3 separate regions of the Homo sapiens genome follow, and all the other regions are linked to region 3. The links come from fine-mapping of genetic effects on gene expression. A gene starts in region 3. Each other region holds a variant in brackets. All regions are shown on one strand. Distances are between the middles of the regions.

What was found.
Region 1: its variant is fine-mapped to the expression of VPS35L in blood mononuclear cells (TOPMed, PIP 0.93).
Region 2: its variant is fine-mapped to the expression of VPS35L in monocytes (Quach 2016, PIP 0.95).

The regions. Positions count from the first base shown.
Region 1 is chr16:19,607,022-19,615,021 of GRCh38, reverse strand. It overlaps VPS35L (VPS35 endosomal protein sorting factor like), which reads right to left. Exons shown (of 31, transcript NM_020314.7): 10 at 6,748-6,844; 11 at 6,001-6,048; 12 at 4,607-4,700. Among named protein-coding and RNA genes, the nearest start is that of VPS35L, 55 kb to the right of the region's middle. RefSeq lists an enhancer at 4,601-5,800. The variant T/A (reference allele first, on the strand shown) is at 4,244.
Region 2 is chr16:19,664,744-19,672,743 of GRCh38, reverse strand. VPS35L (VPS35 endosomal protein sorting factor like) reads right to left here. Exons shown (of 31, transcript NM_020314.7): 27 at 3,445-3,584. Among named protein-coding and RNA genes, the nearest start is that of KNOP1, 49 kb to the left of the region's middle. The variant T/ACT (reference allele first, on the strand shown) is at 4,153.
Region 3 is chr16:19,551,295-19,559,596 of GRCh38, reverse strand. VPS35L (VPS35 endosomal protein sorting factor like) reads right to left here and starts at 3,894. Exons shown (of 31, transcript NM_020314.7): 1 at 3,851-3,894. The coding sequence starts at 3,867. CCP110 (centriolar coiled-coil protein 110) reads right to left here. Exons shown (of 14, transcript NM_001323572.2): 14 at 6,189-8,302. RefSeq lists enhancers at 3,210-3,439, 3,298-4,260, 3,820-4,299.

The DNA.
Region 1 (8,000 bases), 56 kb before region 3:
GAGATAAGAGCAGACATAAATTTTAATACATTTTATGCAATTTTATATAACATGAGCATGAAGTGTAACAATGCTATAATCCACTGGGTCCTGACTTCATTGTTAAAAAACAGACTGTAACATTTCTAGCTGAAGAAATTTACTAATCATAGAGAAGGTGCCAGTACTGGGGTTAGATGGAAAAGTAGAGGGATGAGCTACGGAGGGGAGTTCATAGGTTTAAAACACAACATCACAGTGTTTCTTAAACTGAGCTCCTCAGAAATGCTTCGTTTCCAAATTGCTGCTTAACCGCAAAAACAACTTCGTAGGCTGGGCTGCAGTGGCTCACACCTGTAATCCCAGCACTTTGGGAGGCCCAGGTGGGCCAATCACTTGAGGTTAGGAGTTTGAGACCAGCCTGGTCAACATGGTGAAACTCTTTCTGTACTAAAAACACAAAAATTAGCCGGGTGTGGTGGCGCACGCCTGTAGACCCAGCTACCTGGGAGGTTGAGGTGGGAGGATCGCTTGAACCCGGGAGGTGGTGGTTGCAGTGAGCAAGATTGTGCCACTGCACTCCAGCCTGGGCAACAAAGTGAGACTGGTTCCCTATTTCTTCAAATGGGGAGAGATTTCTCCCATTCACCTTCCACTACCCAGAGGTCATGATGGGTAACACTAATAATGTTTTTCAGATGGCATTTGAGAACCACCAGGGTGTTAAATTCCAAGAGCAGCTCTGTGATTGCTGGGTACAGGAAGTGCTGTTTTCAAGGACAAGCACATAGATTAAATATATATATATATGCTAACAAGAAATATCAGATCCAGTTCTACAGTGTTCTGATTCTCCTTCCACTTAATCATATTGTAGAAAAGACAATAATTATCTGTTAGGTGACAGCAAAGGCTGGCCTGGTGGCTGAGCCATGGAGATGAGCTGAAGCGGCTGTGAGTTAGGAGTTAATCATACCTTCCTTTAATAACAGCTTCAAGCTCCCCCCACGCTCTACCCACTCAGAGCTTTTGTTTTCTGTTTTTCTCTTCTCATCGGGCCAAATGAGCAGCTTGGATATCTGCTTGGGTCTAAAAGATTTCTACCCAGAGCAGCAAGGGTATTGCTCATGATTCCCATCTGCTGTTTCGGCCTGCCCAGCATTCATCCCCCCCATTGCTGGTATCGGCAAATTAGATTTGTCTCTGGGGAATCAAACCTTCCTCTTGGACCATGAGGTTTGTGGTGGAGCTAGATCCACCTCACCCTGAGCTCCATGCAAGGGCATGTGACCCAGTCAGTAAGTACCCAGACACCAACCCCAGACCCCAACCCATGGCCACGTGACTAGTCTAGGGGTGGACAAACAACCCGAGGTAATCCACCAAGAATCAGCCCTGAGGCTCTGGCTAGATCTACTGGCAAGAAGACACACTTTCCAATAAGGTTCCTAAGGTGGTAGGATGGAAGCCAGAGGCCGCTATGGGCCATCATATAAAAAAAGCAAGCCACAGAATGAAGCCAACTCAAAGAACAGCAGAGCTGAGTGATGTGGGGAGAGGCTGATTCTTGACAGCACCCTTTGAGGGCCTGCATCCAGCCATGCCTGCACTAACCCTGGCCTCTCCAGACACTGGCCAGTAAGTTCTTACTTTTGCTTAAAGTAGTATGAACTGGGTTTTGCCACTTGGAACTGAAAGAAATCTTACTAATACACAGGCTGTCTCTTTTTGTTTGTTTGTTTGAGGCAGTCTTGCTCTGTCACCCAGGCTGGAGTGCAGTGGCGCGATCTTGGCTCACTGCAACCTCTGCCTCCTGGGTTCAAGTGATTCTCGTGCCTCAGCCTTCCGAGTAGCTGGGACTACAGGCGTGTACCACCACGCCCGGCTAATTTTTTGTATTTTTTAGTAGAGACAGGTTTTTGCCATGTTGGCCAGGTTGGTCTTGAACTCCTGACCTCAAGTGATCTGCCCGCCTCGGCCTCCCAAAATGCTGGGATTACAGGCATGAGCCACCGCGCTTGGTCTCTCTTACTCTTTTAATGTTAAAGAGACTTTTAGAAACTACCCAACCAGCGGAATCAATGCATTGCCTGGACTGACAAAAATGATTTCAACAGACGCAGGGCACTCTACTACCAATCTTGTGGGGGGTCTGCTCTGTCCTCTGCATCTTCTCCTCATTGTCACTGTGTTTCAAGTTGCATCTGCCATTCAAAGGCACTTTATATGTAACAAACATGATCGTGTACCCTAACTCACATACCTGATCTCAAACATTAAAAGGGAACAGGCTTGCAAAAAATACATACTTCCCCACATTCTGATTTCTCTTTAATAACCAGAATTATTTGCAGAAGAGACAGCATGATTCTAAGTCTTTATCACCGGGTCTCCGATATCAGGCCTTATTCAAATGATGTCAAGGTGTGTTCAAAGCATTTGCTATGTTCTACAAGGTAAAAGGCAGCAGAGAAGAAATACATAAACAAGGCTGGGCACGGGGGCTCACACCTGTAATCCCAGCAATTTGTGAGGCCGGGGAAGGCAGATTACCTGAAGTGAGGAGTTCAAGACCAGCCTAGCCAACATGGTGACACCCTGTCACTACTAAAAATACAAAAAGTAGCTGGGCATGGTGGCAGGTGCCTGTAATCCCAGCTACTCCGGAGGCTGAGACATGAGAATCGCTTGAACCCAGGAGGCAGAGGTTGCAGTGAGCTGAGATTGCACCACTGCACTCCAGCCTGGGCAACAGAGTGAGACTCTGGTGCAAAAAAACAAAACAAAACAAAACAAAACAAAAAAAGGCCGGGTGCAGTGGCTCATGCCTGCAAACCCAGCACTTTGAGAGGCCGGGGCAGGCGGATCATGAGGTCAAGAGATTGAGACCATCATGGCCAACATGGTGAAACCCCGTCTCTACTAAAAATACGAAAATTAGCTGGGCGTGGTAGCGCACACCTGGAGTCCCAGCTACTCGGGAGGCTGCAGCAGAAGAATTGCTTGAACCCTGGAGGCAGAGGTTAGAGCGAGCTGAGATCACACCACTGCACTCCAGCCGGGCGACAGAGTGAGACTCCATCTCAAAAAAAAAAAAAGGAAAAAGAAATATGCAAACAATATCTTTGCATCTCTCCCAGAGGATGTGGCATTGTGTTCTGTGCACAGTAGGGCCTCAGCAAACACTGACTTGGGAGGAGTATTCAAGCTTTAATATATTCAAAAGTTGTCCTTGGAAACACACCTGATATCTCTGGATGGAAAATCCCCCCCAGGTTTCAAGCAGTGGGCGATGCATACACACTTTGGCCTCTGCTGCAAAGAGGGAAGAGGATGCCCTTAAACGAAAGGCTTTTTCTTTCATTCTCAGTATCAAGAAACAGACCTATAAAAAGTGCCCTTCCTAATGGATATCTGCTCCTCACTCTGAGGGCACTGACTTAGTTTTTCGTGAAACTTGAGAGACCACAGGGCTTCCGACATTTGCTGGCTGTCATGCAGAAGAGGCAAATCACAGGCTACATGTTCTCGCCTTCTGATTTAATAAGGTGCAAACTCATGGGGGAGGCTCTAACTGCAGCTTTGTCCTCAAGGAAGTCTGGGGCTTATCAGGTGCAATGATCCCTCTCTAAGGATGTGCAATACTGATGGGACGATAGGGAAGATTCTCGTTGCTAGGGGGAGTCCTGACAGAGGCAAAGCCCCTGTGTGAGCTGAAGAAAACTATGGAGAGACCATATACTGGCCGGGCGCAGTGGCTCACGCCTGTAATCCCAGCACTTTGGGAGGCCAACGTGGGCAGATCACTTGAGGTCAGGAGTTCGAGACCAGCCTGGCCAACATGGTGAAACCCCATCTCTACTAAATATACAAAACTTAGACGGGCATGGTGGCGGACACCTGTAATCTCAGCTACCCAGGAGGCTGAGACAGGAGAATCATTTGAACCCAGGCGGTGGAGGTTGAAATGAGCCGAGATGGCGCCACTGCACTCCAGCCTGGGCGACACAGTAAGACTCCATCTCCAAAAAAAAGAAAGACCATATAACCTCCATTGGTTACATTTTTTCCATACACAAAAAACTTAATAGCTTAGCTGAAGCCTCACGGTGCTTTAAAGCAGGGCATGGGCAAGTAATTTCTAATCAGTCCCTCTACCCCCTTTCACAGCAGCCACCTAAGCCAGGCCACACAGACCCTGAGGCCTGCCATCATGTGGGACACTGCTCCCCTGCCAAGCAGAAAACTAATAAAGCAATCAAAG[T/A]CAAGACAAAGGAAGAGCATGTTTGAAGTCAATGAAAAGCAACCTGTTAGCCCAAAGGCCCTGGGAACCTCCTTCCCAGCAAGAACTGAGAAACAATTACTTCTGAAAACCAGTTCATTTGTAAGAAGATGACCTTAAACGTCCCCTAATTAGAGCTACAGTAAGTTGGTCTACTTTAAAATTAATTTTTAAAAGAAACCCTACAGTTCTACTTTCTGTGGCAGAGCCATGATCTAAAATTAGCCACTAATAAAGTCCTTCTCTCAATGACTTGCGGGGTGGTGGGGAAGGAGGGCCCTGTGTGAACATTCAAGGAGACGGGTGGCAGCCGTGCCGTCAAGGGCAGTGACTCGCATGGCCTACCCGGCACAGGTAGGCACGGGCATACACCGACACTAGTGGGTCTCCGATCCCTCTGATCATGCATGTCAACCGGGGCAGGCACTCTGAAATTCCCCTGCAAGAGACAAAAACAGGCCAGCATTATATTCGACGTGAGAACTCGCTGTTCTTTAATTTTTTAAATAAAGATAAAGACTTCCTAAATTTCAGGGAGGGGGGGAAAAATCAAGTTTCAGTAACAAACCAAGGTCAAAGTTTCAGTTTTCTAAGGCAATGTAACAACAGTCTTTCTCTTCTGATACAATTCATTCATTGAATGATTTCTTTCATCGTTATCATTTGCTCAGTGGTGGAGGCTAACCACATTTTTTCCCCAGTCGAGGTCACATTTATTTTATTAATTTTAACAGTTTTTGTCTTCAATTATTTTCCATCGACTGGGCACCCCTTGATCTTCTCTCCACATGTATTTTCGTTTGCCACAGATTTACTGTCCCGTACCCTGTTCCTTCCGTGAATCTCAGGCTGGCATCTGACATCCTCCAACCACCAACAATGTGAATTACAATTTATTTCTCCTGCAACGTATGTCTTCCCTCTGCCTAAGGCATTATCCTCCTCCAACTGGTGAGGCAAAATAATGTTTCTTCAGCCCCCATGTTATTCCCCCAAACTATTCCAGGCAACCCTAGATCCAAATCCAACACACTTGAGATAAATTCTAAATCCAATCGGTAGAGCTATCTGTGGAGCACCATGAATCAGTCACTCCCGGGCTTCAAGGAATTTATTATCTAGCTATCTAACATGACTCAGCATTTCACCTGCTCTGCAGAAAGCAGATCTGGGTCCCCCACGTCCTGTAACTACTCTCAAAACATTGTGATAAATTGAGTGGCATGGACCTAAGCCACTAAGGGCAAAGGCTTCTGCTTCTGACGTCATTTTCATCATCATCATCATCAACAGCAGCCAACATGGAGGATGGGCCCACCGTGTGCCAGGGGTGACTCTCATTGTTGCATGTGTGACCCAAAGGACCCCCTCAGACCTCTTCTTAGGGTCATGTTCCCAGGAGAGGGAGCCAGAGGTTCTGAGGCTGTAAGTAACTTGTTCAAGACCATACAGCTAGTACCAGTACAGCCAAGATTCAAATCCAGTTGAGCTGATCTTCCATGACCTCCTTAACCAACTTCTCCAGGCTTGAGTTTTCCTCTCTCTAATATGGGGATTAGGATGGTGTCTCTACTTCATTCAGTTTTCATTTGGATTCAATGAGAAAAAGAACAGAAGGTGCTTAACACACATTAAGTACTCAGTGAATAATGGCTACTATTACATTGCCATTACTATCTGTGTACACATGGGAGATTTTTAGAAATTTTATGGTTCTAGATTTTACCGAAGAGCCTTACGTTTTGGAGAGGAATTTGTTACATTTCAGGATGGATGCCTCCACGTAACTACAAAAACATCCTGTTAAGGAAGATGTTTTCCAGAAGGTCTACTCCCTATGGAGAAAAGACTAAACTATCCATGAATAGAAGTAGGCGGGTCTTAGGAGATGGGGACCACAGTGGCCCTCAACAATCCAGCGAACTAAGGTAGCTTATGGTTTCTACATATGGTTTTCAAAGTTTCATACTTATTTGAAATAAATTGTGGGAAATGTTATACGTTGATTCATAGTTGCATGCTGAAATATAAACTGGGTTTTGAGCATTTCTAATCAATGCTTTATGGGGAAAGAAAGAACTTTAGGTAACTAAGATGGAATTTATGTATAAGTCAAATTATCTGTTCTTCAATAGTAGCATTTGCCCTGCAAAGCTTGACCCTGTTCTTTCAAGTTCTTGGAATCAGAGAAAACACAAATATGAAGCATTTTAATTGAGAGAATTAAGGTGGGAATGTTCCTCAAGGAAACAAATGCTTGACACATGGCATCGTATTCAAAGTAAAAGACAAAAAACTGGAAAGAGCAAGAGTCCAAGGGTTTCTACAATGTGGCTTGCCCTGTATGTGTTTTCAGGCTAGCAACCGTAACGGGACCAAACTTTCAATAAGAATGTCAGGGCATCCCATCACATGGCTTCTATTAACAGTACAATTCTTTTAGCCTATCTTTAAAATCATCAGACCAAAAAAAAAAAAAAGGATACAATCTTGGAATGAGTTCCCTGATGGAGGCAATCTTGAAAAACCAATTTAGGCATGTTTCCTTGGCCGTGTCATTTGCATTCTCTGGAGAAAAGTGATCTGTAATACAAAAAACAAGATCCATCAGCCCTCCTAAATCTCAGGATCTGTGTGAGTCCCTGGATGGGAATACATTACCCTGGAGCAGAAAAGGGGGTGACTCAGCCTGTTTCTTTCCTTCCAAATATCACTATTAGGAAGTAACTGATGATAACAATAGTTTACACAGACACAGGCTTTCTAAGTGCCAAGTGTCGTTCGCAGTGCTTTACAGACAGCTCACCTGATCCCATATAGCAACCCTCTGAGGTACGTAGTTTTATTATCTTATTTTACAGATGCAGAGACCAAGGCACAGAGGAATGTAGTGACTCACCCAAGGCACACAGCAAGCAAATGTAAGAGTTAGAATTCAACCCAGGCACTCTGGCCCTGCGGCCGACATTCTTAGCCACTGCCTCTAATATAATCCAGAGGTTCTTGGTTACCTACCAGTCACTATGACAACATTGTTGAGAATTCCAGATGCTTTACGGACCTGCGACTGCAACATGAAATGTGATCTAAGCTTTTGCTCTACACATCACAATGGGCCAGAGGAAGGTAAAACAAGGCCTCTGAGGTGAGAAACCAGCCAGAATTATGTTGCCGGCTCACGACTGGCTCCAAGAGAGTCATCTTGTGAAACTGCCAGTTTACTCCATTAGCTATTCTCTTCCTCTTTAATAAAAGAACTCGCATTTTCCTGCAGGACACAGGGCCATCCTTGCAGCTAGGTGTGGTCACGTGGGTCAAGTTCTGGTCCCAGGATATATAAATAGAAGGGCAACTTCTGAGAAGTATCTTTAAGGAAAGGGGCTTGCCTTCCCTCACTTCTTCTTTCTGCTCACTGACTGGAATGCAGACATGACAGCTGGAACCTCTGCAGCCATACTGACCATGAGAGCAACAAGACAGAAGTGAGGATCCTTGGTACCAGGGGCTAGCTGGCCCATCGGCCCTGACCTTCATTACTGTTATTTTGAGTTTTCTGGAACTGGTACCCAAGCTTGATTTTGACATACATATTTTTAAACAGCAGAAATTTATTTCTCACAGTTCTGGACTTGACATACATCTTAAGGAATGGAAGAGAATATGGAGAAATGAAAGAAAAAACACAAAACTTACAAACACCATGAAGGCCTTTGTTAACCTCTCACATGGAAATGATTTC
Region 2 (8,000 bases), 110 kb before region 3:
TGGAGATCTGAAAACAGTGACATCAAGTGTCAAGTGAAGGGGCTCTAGAAAATGCCAGTGCACGCTGCCCCATCTTGGGGTGCCGCCTATCCTCCCTGCAGGACAACAAGAGGCCCCCATCCTGAAGCCATGTCTGCAGTCCTTGAGCCTGGCCTCCTGACCTCGCTCCCCTCTGTCTGAAGACTTGGAATCTGAACAGGGAGAGTCAGAAGCTGAGTCACTTTCTGTTTTCTCAGCTTTACTGAGATATAATTCACATGCCAAACAGTATACCTGCTAAAATGTACAATTCAGTGATTGTCAGGATATTCACAGAGTTGTGCGATCATCAATACAGTCAATTTTGGAACATATCATCACCCCAAAAAGGAACCTGGATCCACTGGAGCTCAGGCACTTTTATGGCTCAAGTTCAGGGTGATGTTTCTCAAATATGGTCCTAGGACCACTTACCCCTGAATCACTGAAGGGGGCTTTTAAAAATGCCCATTTGCCAAACATGGTTGATCCCACCTGTAATCCCAGGTACTGGGGAGGGTGAGGGAGGAGGATTGCTTGAGGCCAGGAGTTCAAGACCAGCCTGGGAAATGTAGTGAGAATGTACCTCTATAAAACATTAAAAAAAAATTAGCCAGGCGTGGTGGCTGGCACATGCCTGTTGGCCCAGCTACTTGGGAGGCTGAGGCAGGAGGATCACTTTAGCCCAGGAGCTCAGCCTAGGCATACAGCAAGACCCCTTCTCAAAATAAAACAATTAGATGATTTTAAAAATGCTGATTTGTGAGCCTATTTCAACCTACTGAGTGAGACTCTGGGAGGGGCCCCAGGAATCTGCATTTTAACAAGAGTCTGAGATTCCCATGCACATTAAGCTCTACCAGCGGTGCTTAATCTGTTCTGTGCCATGCACCCTGCGGCAGCCAGGTGAAGCCTATACACTCCATGGAATACTATTTTTATTTTTTTTGAGATGGAGTCTTGCTCTGTTGCCCAGGCTGGAGTACAGTGGCACAATCTTGGCTCACTACAACCGCTACCTCCCAGGTTCAAGCGATTCTCCTGCCGCAGCCTCCCTGGTAGCTGAGATTACAGGTGCCTGCCACCACTCCTGGCTAATTTTTGTATTTTTAGTAGAGACGGGGTTTTACCATGTTGGCCAGGCTGGTCTCGAACACCTGACCTCAGGTGACCCACCTGCTTCAGCCTCCCAAAGTGTTGGGATTACTGGAGTGAGCCATCATGCCTGGCCCTTGGAATACATTTTTTTTTTTTTTTGAGATGGAGTCTTGCTCTGTTGTCCAGGCTGGAGTGCGGTGGTGCAATCTCGGCTCACTGCAACCTCCGCCTCCTGGGTTCAAGCGATTCTCCTGCCTCAGCCTCCCAAGTAGCTGGGATTGCAGGTGCCCACCACCATGCCCAGCTAATTTTTGTACTTTTAGTAGATACGGGGTTGTGCCATGTTGGCCAGGCTGGTCTCAAACTCCTGACCTCAGGTGATCTGTCCACCTCCGCCTCCCAAAGTGCTGGGATACAGGCATGAGCCACGGTGCCCAGTCCTTGGAATATTATTTTTAATGCAGCAAATAAAACACATAAGACTAAAAAGCAAACCAATTACACTAAAATACAGCTGGCAAAATATTTTTTCAATGCTTCTGTGATACTGTAATCTGTTGCTTCTTTGTGAATGCATTAACAGCTCTAGCAATGGGCTTAATAACTGCTGTGCTTTGAAAGGAAGAAGAACATACACAATCTTCTGAAATATCTTTCACATCTGAAATGTGATGTGAACATATCTGTTGATTTCTTTTGGTGACAAAGTCCCAGCTACTGCTACTACTACTGTGGCTTTTTGCCTGTAATTCATCGAGTGAAAGGTAAATTTCACTCAGAGGTTTGTTAAAATAAAGCTGTCATTTTCCTCATCCAAATTCATGTCACTCTGCCAGACCCCCAGGGAGTAGATGGACTCCAAGTTATAAGGACCCTTGCTAGGGAGGGTCCAGGAATTCCTCCTGCTGGGTCCCGGGAGTGGCCTCATTCTTTCCAACTCAAGCCTGGCTGTACATCTCTTCCATCCCAGGAAAAACCCAGCATCCTTCCAACAATGCCCCTCTTAATTTCTGCTATGTTTAGTTTCTGTTATTTGCCATCAAAAGAACTTTGTCGCCACCTTCTTAGTGCTTTCTAGAAAGTTTACTATGTGCAGAGGCATGGTTCTGACATTGTGAGTACTCACTAACTTAATATTCATGGCAACCCAGAAGTGACAGTTCTTATCCTCATTTTATAGACAAGGAAACTGCAGCCCAGGGATGTTATATTATTGCCCAAGAACGCAGAGCTGGAAGAAGGATGGGCCAGGATTCCATGCTGGACATCTTGGTTCCGAGGCCTGTGCCCTTCCCCACTGGGCGACACCTCTGCCTTGGCAGTATAGAGAGTGCAGTGGACTAAATATTTGTATCCCCCTGCAAATTCATACACGGAGACCCTAATCCCAATGTGATGGGATTTGGAGGTGGGGCCCTTGGGTAGTAATTAGGTCCCAGAGGACCAATTGCTCAAAAGGCCGGAGAGCTTGCCCTTGCTTTTTCTTTCTGTCACATGAGGACATAACGGGAAGATGGGCCTGCAGTCCCAGCTGCTCAGGAGGCTGAGGCGGGAGAATCACTTGAGCCTAGGAGTTCAAGGCTACAGTGAGCTATAACTGCACCACTGCACTCCAGCCTGGGTGACAGAGCAAGACTCCTAAACAAACACACAAAAAGGCCTGGCATGGTGGCTCACACCTGTAATCCCAGCACTCTGGGAGGCCAAGGCAGGTGGATCACCTGAGGTCAGGAGTTCAAGACCAGCCTGAACAACATGGTGAAACTCCATCTCTACTAAAAATACAAAAATTAGCCAGGTGTGGTGGCGGGCGCCTGTAATCCTAGCTACTCAGGAGGCTGAGGCAGGAGAATCACTTGAACCTGGGGGGTGGAGGTTGAAGTGAGCTAAGATCATGCCATTGCACTACAGCCTGGGCAACAGTAGTGAAACTCCATCTCAAAAAAAAAAAAAAGAGAGACAGAAAGAGAGAGAAGATGGTTGTCTGCAACCTGGAAGTGGGTCCTCACTAGAACTCAACCAGACTGGCACCCTGATCTCAGACTTCCAGCTTTAAGAACTCTGAGAAATAAATGTTGTTTAAGACCCCAGTCTATGGCACTTTGTAATAGCAGCCTGAGCTGACATAGTACCTCACCTCTACTATTATAGTATGATCCCCACCCAGCAAGAATAGAAAATTCATTAAGCAATTCAAATACCTAACTGGAAAACCAACACAAAGATACTAGATAGAATGTTCCTGCAGTTTTAGGCCTAAGAACACATATAATATTATAAGGCAGGTGAAAGGAAGACATGTCCTGCGGTTCTGCTGAGGAAACGTACCGGAACTATTAATAAAGTAGAAAAGAAATTGCAGAGGAATTCCAGAAGGAACGATTCCGATGGCCGCATCTTCCCATCAATATTAATCATCTTTGGAACTTCCGGAACAAGGCTTATAGCGGCTTTGAAAAAAGCATCAGCTGCAAGACAGAAGATAAAAGTCAGTATATTAGAACTCTGGGAAATTTAGTTGGCTTTCTTCTTCACGTGGCCTGAAGGCCAGTCCTGAGAGTTAGGTAGAAGCCAGGCCATGCCGAGGGCAGGTCCTAGCAGAAGGTTTCTGCAAACCATGATGGAGCTGGAGGAATATTTGCTTGACAGGGCACTGCTTCAGCTCAGAGAACCTCTGTTAAATTGTCTTTAGATTATTAAGTGAAAAAAGCAGGTCGCAAATTTTTGTAAAAAGTCTAGAAATGACAGTTGCCTGGGCTAAAGCTCAACTTGGATTGGTTCATTGAATTCTCATGTCTACCAGTGCGAGGAAGGTGCTGTCAACACGTGTACTTCACAGACGAGAAATAAGGGAAGGAAAGAGAAGCAATTCATCCTGCAACAGTGTCCTGTGTATGAAGTTCCAGTGTTGGTAGTAGAGCTGCAGCTCAAACCCAGGTCAGTTTGAATCTATTCTAGTGCACACCATTTTTGTTAAATAGCCATCAAAATGTCTGAAGGAACACAGCACACACACACACACACACACACACACAC[T/ACT]CAGCTTAAAGGCTTCTGATTAACATCAGCTCCATAGAATCGTTTGGGAAATGAAGATATTTAAAGAGCTATGAAAAAATCTGTAAAACAAGAAGACTTCAAAGGGAGTAAGAGAGGAAGAAAAGGAGTGGAGAGAGAATGTGTGTGCACAACAGGAGACGGGGTGGAAGGGATGAGGGAGAGCAGGAAGGATGGGAGGTGGAGGGGAAGACGGAGAGGGAGTGAAAGTTCTTTCTAAAACTGCCAAGGTATTGACCGTGAGAAAAAGCCTCAAGGTCAAAACAATCAAAACACTGACCTGACAAATGAAATTTTAAACTACCCGACAAGATCAAATGTTTTCATGGTCCAAATGGACTTCCACTCCAAAACGACTTCCAGTGATGCAAAGAGAACACTGTAGGGGTGAACAGCATCCTGAATTAAAACAGGAACACCGGCCAGCACACCAGAGGGGCAAATGCAACAGCAAATGCTCACTTTCCTGGGAAGAAAGGCCTATGTTTAATGAGAAGAGTATGTGTCTGAAGATGGATGGTGGAGTTTTGCCATCTCTTCCTTCTTCAAAGGAGAGGGAAAAAAAACATGTCACAGAAAGACACTCCTTGTAAAGCTTTCTGAGTCAAGTTAGCTCTGCTCTGGAAGCTTCTTTGCCTGGCTGTCTCCTGAACCCCAAACTCAAACCCCTTCCACATTTATTAAGCCCCAACTGTGAACAGGGTACTGTCATGGGCAGGTAGACAAACAGATGAAAAAAAAGTGAGAGAAAGCGTTGACAACATAAACTGTGGCAATGAGACCAACATAATCATACTAATTAACAACTATTTTTTTTTCTGGTTTTTTTTTTTTTTTTTCCAGACAGGGTCTTGCTCTGTCGCACAGGCTGAAGTGCAACGGTGTGATCTCGACTCACTGCAGCCTCTGCCTCCTGGGCTCCAGCCATCCTCCTACCTCAGCCTCCCCAGTAACTGGGACTACAGGAGTGCACCATCATCCCTGGCTAATTTTTGTATTTTTTGTAGAGATGGGGTTTCACCGTGTTGCCCAAGCTGGTCCCAAACTCCTGAGCTCAAGCGATCTGCCTGACTCGGCCTCCTAAAGTTCTGGGATTACAGGCGTGAGCCACCGCATTGGGCCAACACTTATTTTCTAAGCCTGTTACGTATTTTGGTCTATGAATCCACTTATCTCAATTGTTTTGGGGAGAGACATTAAATATGGGGCTTGAGGAAAAGCCACCTGATGTCCGTTCTGATAGAGAAACCTTCCAGAAAGGGTCAGAGCCTGCAGGGTCTTCTATCTTGTGACCACTAGTAAGACATGGCCCAACCAGGTACGGTAGCTCACGCCTGTAATCTCAGCACTTTGGGAGGCCAGTGGGTCGATCACTTGAGGTCAGGAGTTTGAGACCAGCCTGGCCAATATGGTGAAACCCTGTCTGTACTAAAAATACAAAAATTAGCTGGGCATGGTGGCACATGCCTGTAATTCCAGCTACTCGGGAGGCTGAGGCAGGAGAATCACTTGAACCCGTCGGTCAGAGGTTGCAGTGAGCCGAGCCTGGGCAACAGAGCAATGCTCTGTCTCAAAAAAAAAGAAAGAAAGAAAGAAAGGAAGAAAGGAAGAAAGGAAGAAAGGAAGAAAGGAAGAAAGGAAGAAAGAAAGAAAGAAAGAAAGAAAGAAAGAAAGAAAGAAAGAAAGAAAGAAAGAAAGAAAAACATGGCCCTACTTATGGAACCCACAGGATCTCCTAGGCCCTATCTTTAAGCAGTTCATTTCCTTAGTCCTCCGGCAGTCCCACAGTGAAGTAAGTATATCATGAAACAAGGTTCTCAGTGGGAATGCAAATTCTGCTCAGAGCAACTTGAAAGACCATTTTTTTCTATTTATGTGTTTGTTACTGACTGGCCCAGAGAATGTGCCTATTATTATGCCTCATTAAAAAGAGAGCAGCTTTGTCCCCAGAACTTGGCTCCTCTCACCCACCCCGCCCAGTTTCCACTCTAAAGGACGGAGCTAAAATAAACAGTTATTTAAAGGTTGGGGCATGCAGGGTTCCAAAGCAGATTTTTAGTTCTATCCTCAGAAGACTTGCCCCATATAGAAAATATTGTCTGGAGACTTCTCAATCTTATCTTAAGTAATTAGAAATCAAATCCTACCCCATGTGACAGCAGTTTATCCTTATAGTTTAAAGTTCAGAATAATCATGTCAACTTCATGTAACACTTTGTTTTGTAGCTATTAAGAGCTATGGAAGCTCATTTAAGATATAACGGATTTTTTTTTAAAGACCTACAGAAAAAGGAGAACTCAGATTCCCAGTAGTAAAGAATATTGTCCCCTCTTTGAGTAATACCCCACAAGCACAGGCAACCAAAGCAAAAATGGACAAATGGGATCACATCAACTTAAAAAGCTCCGCACAGCAAAGGAAACAATCAACAAAGTGAAACGAGAACCCACAGAATGGGAGAAAATATTTGCAAACTACCCATCTGATAAAGGATTAATAACCAGAACATAAGGAGCTCAAACAACTCTATAGGAAAAAAAATCTAATAATCAGATTTTAAAAATGGGCAAAAGATTTCAATAGATGTTTCTCAAAAAAAAAAATACAAATGGCAAACAAGCATATGAAAAGGTGCTCAACATCATTGATCAGAGAAATGCAAATGAAAACTATAATGAGATATCATCGAACCCCAGTTAAAATGGCTTTTATCCAAAAGACAGGCAACGACAAATGCTGGTGAGAATGTGGAGAAAAGGGGAACCCTCACACACTGCTGGTGCAAATGTTAAATTAGTACAACTACTACGGAGAACAATTCGGAGGTTTCTGAAAAAGCTAAAAATAGAGCTACCATAGGATCCAGCAATCCCACCACTGGATTTACCCCCAAAAGAAAGGAAATCAGTATATCGAAGAGATATCTGCACTCCTGTTTGTTTTAGCACTGTTCACAATAGCCAAGATTTGGAAGCAATCTAAGTGTCCGTCAACAGACAAACGGATAAAGAAAATGTGGTACATATACACAATGGAGTACTATGCAGCCATAAAAAAGGAGATTCTGTCATTTGCAACAACATGGGTGAAACTGGAGGGCATTATGTTAAGTGAATTAAGCCAGGCACAGGAAGGCAAACTTTGCATGTTCTCACTTATTTGTGGGAGCTAAAAACAAAAACAATTGAACCCATGGAGACAGAGAGTAGAAGGATAGTTACCAGAGGCTGGGAAGGGTAATGGTGGGGCATGGTGGGGAGTGGGAATGGTTACTGCGTACAAAATAAAAATAGAAAGAATGAATAAGACCTAGTATTTGATAGCACAACACAGTGACTCTAGTCAATAATTTAATTGTACATTTAAAAATAACTGAAAGAATATAACTGAATTGTTTGTAGCACACAGGATAAATGCTTGAGGGGATGGATACACCATTCTCTAGGATGTAATTATTATACACTGCCTGCCTGAATCAAAACATCTCATGTACCTTGTAAATATATACACTTACTAAGTACCCACAAAAATTTTTTTAGAAAAGGAAAAAATATATATTGTCCTGGTTCCACTAGAGGAAGGGGAAAAGCAGCAAGTACACGGACTAGGCTTCCTTCATCCAAGTCCTCTGGGGTTCATGGGACATTCATGTTTTTTTGTTTTTTTTTTTTTTTAGATGAACTCTTGCTCTGTTGCCCAGGCTGGAATGCGGTGATGTGATCTCAGCTCACTGCAGCCTCCGCCTCCCGGGTTCAAGCGATTCTCCTGCCTCAGCCTCCCGAGTAGCTAAGACTACAGGCACATGCCACCGTGCCAGGCTAATTTTTGT
Region 3 (8,302 bases):
TCCCTAAGTCTGAGATGTTAAAGCATTTTCTTTAATCTCTGGGTCTTTGGTAAGGCTAACAGCGACCTCTTGTGGGCATTTTCTCAAAAATCATTCCTTTTCTTTTTGCTAACATAGTTGATATAAACTGGTAAAAATTCCCCATAATTCCAACCCCCAGTAATGTAAAGGGCTTGTCTGGATCACTGGCACCTGCCACAGGAAAAAAGGCCACCATTTCACACCTCCACTATTGGCTGGGCTTAGCCCTTGGCTATTCAAAATGTGGTTCACAGATCACCAGCAATGACATCACCTGGGCGGGCTGAAATACCCCAGGCCTACAGAATCAGATCTGCATTTTAACTAAATCCTCAGGTGGTTTATATGCACATTAAAGGTTGACAATGGCCTATTTTTAAATTATTTACCTCTGATAATATGGATACACAGAAATCCCACTATGATTAACCAAATTAATCTCCTTATACTGGAAACACCAAAATCCACTAAATGCTTTGCTCAACTATTTTAATTCTCAAATAAGTTTTTGGTTACTAATCACATAATCGGACCACACAGCTTTTTCTTCCACAATCACAATATTACCCAGCCCCCTTCACCGCTACACATAAAAAAAACTCTTAAAATGATGTAGAGATTCTGACTCCAAGGGTTGTTTTTTTTTTTTTTTTGAGACGGAGTCTCACTGTGTCATCCAGGCTGGAGTGCAGTGGCGCGATCTCAGCTCACTGCAACCTCTGCCTCCTGGGTTCAAGCAATTCTCCTGCCTCAGCCTCTGGACTAGCTGGGACTGCAGGCACCCGTCACCACGCCTGAGGAATTTTTTTTTTTTTCTAGTAGAGACAGGGTTTCACTATGTTGGTCAGGCTGGTCTTGAACTCCGGACATCAAGTGATCCACCCGCCTCAGCCTCCCAAAGTGCTGGGATTAGAGGCATGAACCACCTTGCCCGGTCCAAAGGGTGGTATTTCCAAGTGTGCTATAACCACAGGATTAAACGGAAAATGTGATCTAGGGTATACAGGACATCTCATCTCCTAGCCAGGCCAAAATATAGCAGGGATAGCAAAAACTGTGGGTAAAAAGAGGCATTCCTGGGGAGACCCATGACAAGGCAGTGGGATTTGGGGAACCCCGCAAGCCAGAAACCTCAGCCCAGGATATAGATTTGAAGTCCAGCTGATGAGGATGATTACTATCATAGCCTCTGGCTTCCAAACCTCAGCTATCCCTTGTGGGGCTAATTTAAGTAAACTGCTTCATCTCTCTGCCTCTATTTCTTCCTCCGCAACATGGGGTTGTTATAAGAACCTAATGATGTTACATGTTACGCACTTTACGAGTGATGTCTGACAGAAAATAAGGACTTGATAAATGTAAATTTAATGACAGAAACTCATTTCTCCTCTGCAGTCCTCCTCAGTTTCCTCATTCATTCATAAATATTATTCAGCACTCACCATTATGTTCTAGGCTCCACATACAAAGATGGACAAAACTCAGTCCCTTTAACTTTTTTTTTTTGAGACGGAGTCTCGCTTAGTAGCTCAGGCTGGAGTGCAATGGCACGATCTTGGCTCACTGCAACCTCCGCCTCCTGGGATCAAGTGATTCTCCCGGGATCAAGCGATTCTCCCACTTCAGCCTCCTAAGTAGCTGGGATTACAGGAACCTGCCGTCATGCCTGGCTACTTTTTGTATTTTTGTGGAGACGGGCTTTCACCACGTTGGGCAGGCTGGTCTTGGAACTCCTGACCTCAGGTGGTCCGCCTGCCTCGGCCTCCCAAAGTGCTGGGATTACAGGCATGAGTGACCGCGCCCAGCCAGTCCTTTTAACTTTTAAGGAGCAAGAAGTCTATTAGGGAAACTGAAAGATGAATGCATACTTCAAAAGGAAATGTTCAGAGCACGGGCCGGGTGTGGTAGCTCACGCCTGTAATCCCAGCACTTTGGGAACCCGAGGTCGGCGGATCACTTAAGGTCAGGAGTTCGAGACCAGCCTGGCCAACATGATGAAACACCGTCTCTACTAAAAATACAAAAATTAGCCTGGTGTGGTGGCATCGCCTGTAATCCCAGCTACTCGGGAGAGTGAGGCAAAGAATCACTTGAGCCGGGAGGCGGAGGTTGCGGTGAGCCAAGATCACGCCACTGCAATCAAGCCTGGGCGAGACTCCGTCTCAACAAAAACAACAACAACAAAATATTTAGAGCACGGCCATATTAGGAACTATAGAGACCCTAAATACTAAAAGCGTTATGGCACCTGTTTGCCTGCTTGTAATATAAAATTAAAATTCCAAAGGTAGAAATGTACTGGGATGCAGAGATTAAGACAGCATCTTCCTGGATTTTCTGATTGCAAACTTCAGATAAATCCACTGAAGTCAAATGTTTCTCATGTTTTTGGTTAGCTTTTTGGTCAAGCCAGCATGACTTTTTCATTTTTTATTATTATTTTTTTGAGACAGAGTCTCACTGTTGCCCAGGCTGGAGTGCAGTGGCATGATCTCGGTTCACTCCAGCTTCCGCCTCCCAGGTTCAAGCGACTCTCCTGCCTCACCCTCCCAAGTAGCTGGGATTACAGGTGCGTGCCACCACTAATTTAGCCCAGCTAATTTTTGTATTTTTAGTAGAGATTAGGTTTCGCCATGTTGGCCAGGCTGGTCTCGAACCCCTGACCTCAGGTGATCCGCCAGCCTCGGCCTCCCAAAGTGCTGGGATTACAGGCGTGAGCCACCATACCCAGCCAGCATGACTATTAACTGAAAAAAAAAAAAAAACCTCAGGGTGTGGAAGTGCTCAGAGGCATTCAATGCTGATGTAGCGTGTCAAGGAAGCAGTCTCTTAAGTGTTGGGCAAATGAAAGGAATAAGACAAAATGAAGTGTTTATCAAGCTCAAAAGCAGAAGGTTGTACCTGATTATTTCTAAGGTCTTTCATTTGCTCATTTAATCTAAGCTACTTCACATCATTTGAAGAGAAAGTAAATTATCTCGCTTTCTGAGATGCAGGAGAGATTCCCCGTCCCCAAATCCCACTATCATCAACAACACAACTTCCTCAAGTTCTTCACTCACACACATACCACCTGCTGAACCCTGAAGCTTCAGTCACTCATTCCTAGCTACTCCAACCACAAGGGACCTACGGGCCTGCCAACCAGGCACACGCCACGCCCTCCCTATGGTGGACTCCTATTCATCCTCCAAGACCCAATTTAACTCCTCCTCTCTGAAGCCTTCCCCTAGCCCCCTGGTGGGGATAATCACTCCCTTCTTGGTGCCTCATCCGAATGCCTTCTTTAGACATCCCTCTACTGTGCGTCTGCCCCATTATACTGTCAGCTCCTTGAGGCCAAGGAATAAGTCTGAGGGCTGTGCCTAGGATAGGATGAATGGCGGCCATTTTACAGATGAGAAAAGCAAGTCTCCAGGTGAACAGAGGAGCTGAGGAAACTGACCAACAGCCAGATCTCCCGACTCGTCCAGACTTTAAAAGCTGAGTCCACCATTACCCTCATCCAGCGACCCCAGAACCCGCGCCAACTTCTGGGGACGCGGAAGCCTGGAAACTCAAGTTTTCTTTAGGGAATGAATGGACAGGGGCCCGTGGAAGGCGCAGAGAGGCAGCAGACGGGGAGAGAACCAAGAACCCGCCAGTCTGGCTTCAGATTGCTCCGCTGGACCGCGGTAGCGGCCAGGGATTCTACGGTCAAGACAACTTGGGGGTGGCCGGTCGACCACCAGAACCCGACAGAGAGGAATTCACACTCTCAGACCCAGGCCGACCCCATCACAAGTAAGGACAGCCCCTCTCCAAAGCCCACCCGCCGCTGCTTCCTTACCAAGGAAAGACGGCCATCTTCCCAGTCACATGACCGCTTGTTCTGGGGCCGTCTGCTCGGCTTCCCATCCTTACCCCGCCACTCCCCGCACCCCTCGGCCGCCATGTTTGTGAAGGGCAGCTGGCCGCCCCGCAGCGGCCGCACAGCACCTTCTGCAGACGCCATGCTTGTGAGGGGCAGGCGACGCTCCGCACAGCACAGGCTTCATTTTCAGCTGACGCCATGCTTGTGAGGGGCAGCTCCCCGCTCCGGACAGCCCGGGTTACAACTCCCGCCGGCGCCATGCTTCGGAGGAGCAACGTCGGCCACGGCCAGAGTGCCGTAGTTTCTATGAGTCATGATTGTAAAGGGCAGCTGTCTACAGTGCCGGGTGGTCCCGCCTGCGGGCGTCATGATGGTAAAGGGCATGACTGCTGCTTAGCTCACCTGCGTCCTCTAGGGGCAGAAAGGACTCCAGAAGGCGGCGGAGCGAAGACGCAAACTGAGGTTCAGCCAGTACCTGGTTTTGCGGCTAATACGCTGTTTGGCGTGGGACAGCCATGCCCCCTCTAGGCCGCTGCTTTACCCACTGCTTTGCGGGCGGTTTTAGACACTTGCAGAATGCCCTTCCCACGACTAGCAACCGAGGGCTGCCCTAGATCTAATATGATTGACTACAGCTAATGCACGTGGGGAAATTAGGGTTCGCATTTCGTCCAACTTGGCAAAGCAGTGTTTCTAGGAAGGTGGATATCCATTTCGACCACAGAACGTTTTTAAAAATTATTTTAGGCCGGGAGCGGTGGCTCAGGCCTATGATCCCAGAACTTCGGGAGGCCGAGGTGGGTGGTTCACCTGATGTCAGGAGTTCGGGACCAGCCTGGCCAACATGGTGAAACCCCGTCTCTACTAAAAAATACAAAAACTAGTTGGGTATGGTGGCGGGCGCCTGTAATCCCAGCTACTCGGGAGGCTGAGGCAGGAGAATTGCTCCAACCCGGGAGGATGAGGTTGCAGTGAGCCGAGATTGCGCCATTGCACTCCAGCCTGGGCTACAAGAGCGAAACTCCATCTCAAAAAAAAATTTTTTTTTTAATTATTACTTTTATAACTTACTTAGATATCCATTATGGTCCCTTAGAGAGAAAGCATTCGATGTTTTTATAACTCTTACTTTTCATTCGGGGGTGGTGGTCTGTGGTTGTTCATGAGATGGTGACCTATGACAGGGAAAAGGATCATCTCCAGAACGGGCCCTCCAGTGTTCAGCTCAGTATGAGTAGGAAAGTATATCCACTCGTACCTGCTATTCCCAACACTGGAAGTGAACAAGGGTTAAAGGGTGGCCACGGGAAAGCAAGGAGCTCTTCCCATACAGCCATGCATGTTATCACATGCAACATCTCAATAAGAGGTCAAGGTGAGGAGCCTTTTCCTAGGCTCACACTGCATGATTAGGCAGTAACAAGAGGAGGATTCTTAAAGTTGTGCAAATTAACAGCTTTGATGTGAGCTTCAACCTTCGCATTCTCTTTTCTCCCTCTCCTTCCCTTAGCAGGCTTCTATCTCTTAATAAGTTAAGACATTTCCAGCCTGAGTTTTACCTTCTGAAAAGTCCAACTTTTAGTAGAGACGGGGTTTCACTATGTTGGCCAGGCTGGTCTCAAACTCCTGACCTCAGGTGATCCTCCCGCCTTGGCCTCCCAAAGTGTTGGGATTACAGGCGTGAGCCACTGCACCTGGCCCAGGGGACATATTAAATAATGAGATATATCTTTCATGGAACTTGTAAAGAATGATTATATACAATATTTGTTTTGGCCTAATACTTTTCAATATCTGTTTCTTTTTTCTTTTTTGTTTTGGAGACAAAGTCTCATTCAGGCTGGAGTGCAGTGGTGCGATTATAGCTCACTGCCACCTGTAACTCCTGGGTTCAAGTGATCCTCCTGCCTCAGCCTCCAGCGTACCTAGGACTACAGATGTGAACCACCATGCCTGGCTAATATCGGTTTCTTTTTTGTTTTGTTTTGAGATGGAGTCTTGCTCTGTCACCCAGGCTGCAGTGCAGTGGCACAATCTCGGCTCACTATAGCCTCCCCATCCCAGGCTCAGGCGATTCTCCTGCTTCAGCCTCCCAAGTAGCTGGAACTACAGGCATGCACCACTACGCCCAGCTAATTTTGTATTTTTAGTAGAGACGGGGTTTCACCATGTTAGCCAGGCTGATCTCAAACTCCTGATCTCATGATCCACCCACCTTGGCCTCCCAAAGTGCTAGAATTACAGGCATGAGCCACCATGCCCGGCCTATTTCTTAATAGTCCTTCCCCTGGTAAATAAAAACAATCAAACTAGATTTTCTTTAAGATGAAAAGTTTATTTTGCTTTTTGCCTAGAAGCAAAACTAGTGAAAATAAAAGTATAAAAATAAATACAATTTACATTAATGAACATTCCACTCAAAGTAAAAATAAGCAAAAAAAGTATATAAATAAAAATCCATCAAAAGCACAAACAGTGTCTGGCACCTGTATGAGAAGAAGCTATGAACACCAAAAAAGAATGTGTAAAACACAGGCTTTTATCTTTAAATTAAAAACACTCAAGTTTCTCATCCTTACTCTAAAGCTAGTTTTAACTTTCTCCAAAACTATTTGTTTTAACTAATTTGCATTACACACACAAAAAGTGCACAAAACTTTTAGCATCTTTCTTACTGGAGAGACCCACAATGCTATGAATAAGCTGTATCCTGAGTTTTCAGAATGATAAAGCACAGTTTATCATATTAAGAAGACAATTTGATACTTTGCCTATAAATTTTAAAAAATTGGTAACTTGGACTTTTTTTGACCATCTTCTAATTTTCTGGTTCACTCATTCAATACATGATACATCTCAATAAAGAAAATCAAGTTTACACCCAGGGTGGCTTATTATTTCTGTCTATAGCTGGATGTCAAAGTTAAATTTAAAATGGCACAGAAAATTGGAGAAAACAATCTTCATCTCCATATTCTTAAAAGGATATTAAGAATATATATAGGTTGCATTTTCAAAATACCAGTATCTCTTTAAAATTTAAATTAGATTAAATATACACTGTCTCAATTTTATGTGAAAAGCACAAAGCCCTTTTTGGAAATGGTATGATAAATTAATAGTGACATTCTCCCTCATGAAGTCACGTTATCTTGGTAACATTTGTTGGTTGATACTTTTTTTTTTTTTTTTTTTTGAGACAGTGTCTTGCTCTGTTAACCCGACTGGAGTGCAATGGCACAGTCTCAGCTCACTGCAACCTCTGCCTCCCAGGTTCAAGCAATTCGCCTGTCTCAGCCTCCCAAGTAGCTGGAACTACAGGCATGCACCACCATGCCTAATTTTTGTATTTTCAGTACAGATGGGGTTTCGCCATGTTTGGTCAGGCTGGTCTCAAACTCCTGACCTCAGGTGATCCACCCACCTTGGCCTCACAAAATGCTGGGAGTACAGGCGTGAGCCACCCTGCCTGGCCAGTTGATACTTTTAATGGATATGTTAGTGATGAAAAATCTTAAACATGGGTGTCTTTAAGCAATGCAGAATTTTAACCAGGCAATATTCTTATCCGGAAATCTGGATTTATTATTATATAGCCCTTTATTCTCTCCTAAATCAAGCATGCTAGAAAAAACAGACTATGAAGAACAAAATATACAGACTAAATAGAAAATATAACTGCATGCAACATATTATTATGTTACAGAAATGGATGTAATAATGCATTCCCAAGAGCTACATTCAAGAAGATTGTGCTGTCTTCCCCAAATTTGTTACCTGTCACAGAAAGATCTTATAACCTAGTACAAATGTTTCTAACAGTACTGGGGTAACATACATGAAGCCTAACATTTCTGTCAGACAACTAGTTGTCTGACAGGAATGTATGCTTCTGACCAAAATGGTGACCCACATTAACTTCTGTAGATTTTAGTGGGCCACAATTGGCTACATGGTTATACTGTAAGTCAAAGAAAGTGGACATTGAGTGGTTAATCCAAGTTTTTAAAGTTATAAAATGAGGGAAAGGCATTCTTCTGCAATAATTTCCCTTTGAATCAAATTCAAAAATCACTATGCAGAGATGAATTAAATTTATGTTTTAGAACTTATTTATAATTTGTCTTATCTTTTCAATATTCTGTAAAAGTAAATCCAAATGTCCTTGACATTTACAAAAAGGGTCTCTGTAGACATCTGGGCATATAAAATAAACTTATGTTTGTATAGGTAAGCACAGAGATGATGCAATTACTAAACACTAATTTGTCTTCACCCAAACGTATTATTAAGAGGAAAATAGGGGTGTGGAGCAGGAATTACCAAACTGACCAAATGATCCAGATAAGTGCTCAGCCTTCTGATGTCACTTTGTCTGTGTAAACGGAGTCCAGGGTTAAATAAAGTCTTGGGCAGGGAAAATAACAT